Regions from separate parts of the Homo sapiens genome. Here region 1 is reported to be linked to region 2. The links are microRNA targets in miRTarBase. Many come from high-throughput screens and were not tested one by one. Region 2 holds a microRNA gene; the other region holds the end of a gene's coding sequence.
The links. The annotated mature microRNA hsa-miR-554 reads GCUAGUCCUGACUCAGCCAGU and lies in region 2 at 1,514-1,534, opposite strand. An mRNA with a match to its seed (bases 2 to 7 or 8) in the 3' UTR can be bound and repressed. Matches are read on the target gene's strand: a 7mer-m8 pairs with bases 2 to 8, a 7mer-A1 pairs with bases 2 to 7 and ends in A, and an 8mer does both.

Region 1: miRTarBase lists PRLR as a target of hsa-miR-554. The part of its 3' UTR that is shown has no 7-base or 8-base seed match.

Annotation. Positions count from the first base shown.
Region 1 is chr5:35,062,263-35,065,262 of GRCh38, forward strand. PRLR (prolactin receptor) reads right to left here. Exons shown (of 10, transcript NM_000949.7): 10 at 1-3,000. The coding sequence ends at 2,827. Among named protein-coding and RNA genes, the nearest start is that of AGXT2, 16 kb to the left of the region's middle.
Region 2 is chr1:151,543,806-151,547,344 of GRCh38, reverse strand. It overlaps MIR554 (microRNA 554), which reads right to left and starts at 1,549; the gene lies at 1,454-1,549. All of the region lies in intron 1 of TUFT1 (tuftelin 1), which reads right to left. RefSeq lists an enhancer at 1-417.

The DNA.
Region 1 (3,000 bases), not on the chromosome of region 2:
TTCAAAGGACCTTAGAGGTTATCTGGTCCAACATCTTCAGAGGAAACTGAGGCTTAGAGGGGGGAATTAATCTCTCCAAGGCAAAGCAGTTAGGACCAGAATCTAGGTCTCTTCACCGCCCCCCTGCCCCACATGTATCCTTCCATTTGAACAGCTGTCTCCTTGATAGACCACAAAAAAACTTTTTGTTAGACCACAAAAAAGCTTAATTCAGATAAACAGTGCTAATTGATCATAGAATTAAAGTCTTGGCCTAATGAGTGGCTAATTGTTTTTTAGGGATTTAATTCAAGTCCTTAGCTGTCACATTTTTTCATACGTATTATACAAAATTATATGTCAAAAGCAGATTACTTTTATGTTTAGGTTTTCAGACTATAAGAGTGACTGATACATATCTTCTCTATTCTTAGAGAATAGACTATGTTAGGAAAGATTTAGTCTGCATTGGCTTTGAGGGTGACTGTCTTTGGTTAATGTCTCTCAAGGTAGATTATATTCCTTGGCCTTTCAGAAGTTGTGCGTAGTTTTGCAGGTCATTCTTTTATGTGAATTCATATAAGATTCAGCATAATGTGAATCTTAAACTACTGATATGTTTCTTTTTTTGCCTGCTTACATGCAGTGTTGTTCATTGCAAGTCAAACAGACTTGATCTGTCCTTTCCAAAAGAGGATTGTTACTATGAACTAAAATAACCTTTAGTGGAAATGGTTGTCTAGAACAATGCTTCTCAAACTTCAGTGTGCAATTGAATCATTTGGGGATCTTAGTAAAATGCAGATTCTGATGCTTAAGATTCTGCAAATGGAATTTTCAAACACTGCCCAGGTGATGCCTATGCAGTTGGTTCTCAGACAGTTAAAGTATCGAGGATTTAGGGGACTGAATGAGCTTGGACAACTTTCCCACACGCTTCCCTTACTCACATGATATTGTTTATATATTAGAAAAATGGAGCTTCGTATCTATTGCTTTTGCCATTCTCAAAACATTGGCAATGTGTTCACTTTCAAACAGGAGGGGGACCTCTGAGTCCAGTTGCTATCAATATGGGATAGTTGGGGTGGAATATTTAACTCCCAGAGGTGAGCTCAAGTTCTCTATGTCCAGCTAGTAAATGGACATATAGAATGGATTTACCATCAAGTGAAGGGAAAAATAGAGAGGGGCTGCTAGATGAGTCATGGATGCGCCCTTTAAAATGAGGATCCAAGCTTTGACTTCTTTCAGGAAGCCTGGCACTGGAATTGACCGGGAGATTCTCATTACCTTACTCTGACCTTTGGAGCTATTCCCATTGCTCTGGGAAGCAAATACCTAGTTTCCCAGAACTTTTATTTGGACACTTCTGATATGAGCCATTTCTGCCTCTGCCAAGATTTTGCAATTGAATTTACTTCAGAGAGACACTAACTCCTGGCTTTGCTTAAAATTTTTTTGTGGCCCAAGATTTCTCACAAAAGCAAAACCTCTCTCTTTTAAACAGCTGTTAGAAATCGTCGCCCTCCCTTTTTATGGTAGCTTTAGGAAGATTCACCCATTGATGAACAGGAGTCCCAGAGGAGCCTGAAACTCAAAGGAGAAATAATTTCTGGTCTGTGGAGAATCCTAAATCCCTAGGTTGGTGGTGGTGGTAGCAGTTGTTTAAAGTGTCCTGGAGATCAAAAGAATCAGATAAACTATACTATATTGCGTTGAAAACTGAATTTTGTCATTCACTTCATATTTCACAGTGGGCTTTGGGTTGGTATGGCATTTTACTCCACAAACGGGAACTTTATATACTACTATGTACTGTAAATACACATTATAACCTTGCAGCAGAAAATACTGTACCCACTGAATACATAAACAGCTGTACTGGGAAAATAGAAAATAGTCTTTTATTTTACCTAAGTCATAGAAAAATAGTCTTCAAAAATACAGTTAAACTTATGGGTTTATATTAAAGTAGAATTTGTATGTACAGTAAGGCAGTAATTCCATTAGCATCCTGCTGTGGTTTTCTTTTCAAGTTAGTCTTTAGGGAATTTTTTTTTAACTAAGGAAAGACTAAGGTGTATAATAAATTATCTATCATGCTGAAATGAAGGAGGAAAACATCCTAAAGGGATTCACATGAAATTCATTTGCCCCTTGTGTAAGAACATTTTTATTTCCAAACTATATTTTATAGAAGCTTTAGAGTAGAATTTAGGGGGAAAATCCATGCTTAACATATCTAAACTATTTTAAGAAAAAATTGGAGGCATTATTTCTTACTTGCATATCAGCAATGTGTCAGTAAGGTATAGGAACTTATGTAAACAATTTGTTCTGGAATGCATTCTTTCTTTAAATGGTTATATTTGGGTAATCCTAATAAAATGGACGAGGAGTGTAAAGGTTATGCAGTTGTTTTTCAAAAGCAATTTTCATGGCATTTTCCTATGTGGAAAATTTTCTTTTGTCATCTTTCTATGGTAAACAATTTTGACAATTTCATTTCCGTCTGTCCCATGCCAAATCATGAAAGCCTTTTCCAGAGGATATACCTATTGGCATTGTCCCTCAAGAATACTAAGCAGTGTGCTTTTATTTCATTGAACACATAGTTTTATAACTAACAGCAAAAAGTAAATCTACAAATCACAGTTAGGAAACATAATGATTTGTTCTGGAATCAGCTGCTGGAGAAAGAGGCAAGTGGTTAAAAATGGAGCATGAAAGGAGCTGGGAGCTTTAGTAGTGTCAGTCTGACTACATTCTTGAGCATTTCACGTACTCTGTAGTGTTACCTGAAGAAAAATCACATTTTAACCAATCATTCCATTAGTCAAGCTATCAGTGAAAGGAGTGTGTAAAACATGCGGGATCCAGGTAATCCAAACCACCCAGCTGGAGCCTGCACTTGCTTGATGTTGCAGTGAAGTTGGCCAGGGCTTTCTCAGCTTGATTCTGTTCAAGTGATGGTGGGGCCTCTTTGGCTGATTCTTCAAAGCAAGCCACGTTTTTAGC
Region 2 (3,539 bases):
TGAAACCATCTGGGTGCACGCCCCCCTCCACCCTGGAGAACTATGGGCAAATGTTAGTGCCAAATGCCTGATGATGAGGTAACTCTCCTCGCTCAGAGGAGATCCCTCCTTCTCTGGCAAAGCCCAGCATTCCCCAAATTCCTGGCAGCCTTGGTGACATCAGAAAAATGCAGTGCTCCTGAAAGTAAGAACCTGGCAATAAATGGGAGAGATGGGATGGTGTGAGGAGAAATTTATGGGCTGAGTTTAGGACAAGTTTCATGAGTAGAAGGAACAGGCAGCCACCAAACTTGAAAGGCTCCTCTGCCCAGCAGTTTTTCCCCACACTCAGATGTCACAGAACCAGGACTTCCACATTTTAGAATACATTCAGTCCTCTGGAGTAAGCAGCAATGGCTACAGATGAATCCTCCTTTAAAATGCAAATATTCTGACCCAGCAATCCCACTCCTAGGTATTCCTCTCCAAGAGAAATGAAAATATATTTCCACACAAAAACTTGTACACCAAAGTTCGTAGCAGCATTATAAATGATAGCCAAAAAGTAGAAAGAACCCAAATGTCCACCAACATTTATCCATGACGAACACAGTTGTAATACATCTAAATAATGGAATATTATTCAGCCATAAAAAGGAATGAAGTACTGATTCACATTACAACATGGATGAACCTTGAAAACATCATTCTAATAAAAGATGCCAGTCACAAAGGATCACATACCGATGATTACATTTATATTAAATATCCACAATAGGTAAATCCATAGAGAAAAAAAGTAGACTGGTGGCTGCCTAGGGCTGAGAGAGATTGGGGGGAAATGGGGAGTGACTGCTAATGGGTCAGGATTTCTTTATAAGGTAAGGAAATGTTCTAAAATTGATTTATTGATGATTGCACAACTCTGTGAATGTACTAAAAACCACTGAGTTACATACTTTAAATGGGGTATATGAATTATATCTCAATAAAGCTGTTCATAAAAAATTATATGAAGCTCATGGTAAGGCTTCAATAAATCACAATTCTAATTTAAAAAATAAAAGAGAGTGAGGCTCTGGAAAGACTTGGCATTAAACTACTTGAGCTTCTGAGGTCCTAAAGGAATGTCACCTATTCCACAGTAAAGACAAGTCTTCAGATTGCAGCTGATAAAAAAATTCCAAGTCCACCCGGGTGTTGGAGAACCTCTCTGGCCAAGACAAATCCAAAAAAAGAAAAAGAAAAAGAGAGAGAGGATGAAAAAAATGCAAATAGTTCCCAATTAATGTAGATAAATTTTAAAATGCATTAAAGTAATGGTAAAGACAATAAAAAGATGCTGTAGAAAAAAAAAAAAAAGAAAAAAATGCAAATATTCGAAAGAAAGATAAAACTGATATATTACTTAAAGAAACCAGAGCAGCAGGGGACACCAGCTGCCTTGGTCATGAGGTCTAAAAAAGAAGAGGAAAGATGCCCAGAGAGAGATGCCAAAATATGAACCCTGACCCATCACCAGTCTAAGACCAGTACTGGCTGAGTCAGGACTAGCAAAGGTTACTCAGGTCTTCACCCTGGGTCTATCTGTAGGCCTTCCTCTCACCCCTGGGACTCTCCACTGGTTGAGGGACCTGGATCATCAAGGAAACGAGAAAGAAACAGGAATAAACAAAAGTCAGCATAATGAGGAGGAGCAAACCTTGCCCAAACCAGAGAGTTCCCAGACTCTTCCTCCATCCCTTGGCTGGTTGCTTATAGGAGGTTAAAACAGTCTAGTCTAAGCCAGTAGAAATAGAAAATAATAGCTAACCTCTGAGTACTTACCACATGCCAGGCACTGTGCTTCATATTTTATGTGTATTATCTAATTTAATCCTCACAACTACCTTATGAGAAGGGTGCAATTATTATCCCAGTTTTACAAGTGAGAAAACTAAGAATGAAGAAATTAAGTAATTTGCCTAAGTGAGCTTGGGCAAAGCAGACATCAAAGCCTGATTAGAGCCCACCTTAGTCAGATTCCCAGAGCCATGCTCTTTTTTTTGTTTGTTTGAGACGGAGTTTCACTCTTGTTGCCCAGGCTGGAGTGCAATGGCGTGATCTCGGCTCACTGCAACCGCCACCTCCTGGGTACATATGATTCTCCTGCCTCAGTCTCCCAAGTAGCTGGGATTATAGGTGCGCACCACCACACCTGGCTAATTTTGTATTTTTAGTAGAGATGGGGTTTTGCCATGTTGGTCAGGCTGGTCTCGAACTCCTGATCTCAGGTGATCCACCTGCCTCAGCCTCCCAAAGTGCTGGGATTACAGACGTGAGCCACTGCACTCAGCCCAGAGCCATGCTCTTGACCACAATGCTATTAACAGAAACTAGTTTATTACATTACCAAAAATTGTAATACAATTACACTGGGAGGATGGGAAGGAAGCATGTCAGGGGTGGGAGTATAGATTTTCCTATAATTCCTACAACAGAAGTCAATAGATGTCTAAAACTGATAAATCAATTAAAATCACTGTAAGCATATTATTTAGAAACATGGAGGTAAACACAAAACAGCTCAAAGAGTAGAAAGTGGTTACTTCCATGGAGCAGAACTTGGAGCAGGGGACTGCTATTTTCTTTTAAAAGCCTTTTGATATTATTGATACTTTGATACTTTAAAATCATGCACATATGTGATTTTAAATGTCCGAGATCACGTCGTTGCACTCCAGCCTGGGCAACAAGAGTGAAACTCCTTTGATAAAAAGTGATTTAAGAGGCCAGGCACGGTGGCTCACGCCTGTAATCCCAGTACTTTGGAAGGCCGAAGCGGGCAGATCATTTGAGGTCAGGAGTTTGAGACCAGCCTGGCCAACATGATGAAACCCCATCTCTAGTAAAAGTACAAAAATTAGCTGGGCATGGTGGCCCATGCCTGTAATCCCAGCTACTCGGGAGGCTGAGGCAGGAGAATTGCTTGAACCAGGGAGATGGAGGTTGCAGTGAGCCAAGATTGTGCCACCGCACCCCAGCCTGGGTGACAGAGTGAGACTCCATCCTCCCCCTCCCACCGCCCAAAAAAAAGGTGATTTAAGGCCAGGTGCAGTGGTGCACACCTGTAATCCCAGCACTTTGAGAGGCCGAGGCAGGAAGATTACTTTAAACCAGGAGTTCAAGACTAGCCTGGGCAACATAGTGAGAACCCATATCTACGAAAAATGAAAAATTAGCTAAACATGTTGAGTATGCCTGTGGTCCCAGCTACTTGGGAGGCTGAGGTGAAAGGATCCCTTGAGTCCAGGAGTTCAAGGCTGCAGTGAGCTATGATCACACCACTGCACTCCAGCCTGGGCAACAGAGTGAGACCCTGTCTCAAAAAAAAAAAAAAAAGTGATTTAAAGAAGGATGGAAAGAAGGAAGAGAGGGAAGGAGGGAAATGAAATCAGAGATCATCCATGGTAAAGTCTAATGTCATAGACATCTGTTCTTTTGCCACGCAGCTTCCATTCCCCTCCACTGATAACAACACTTGGGTCTTTGGAGAATCTCCTTCCATCACTGTAATCTGG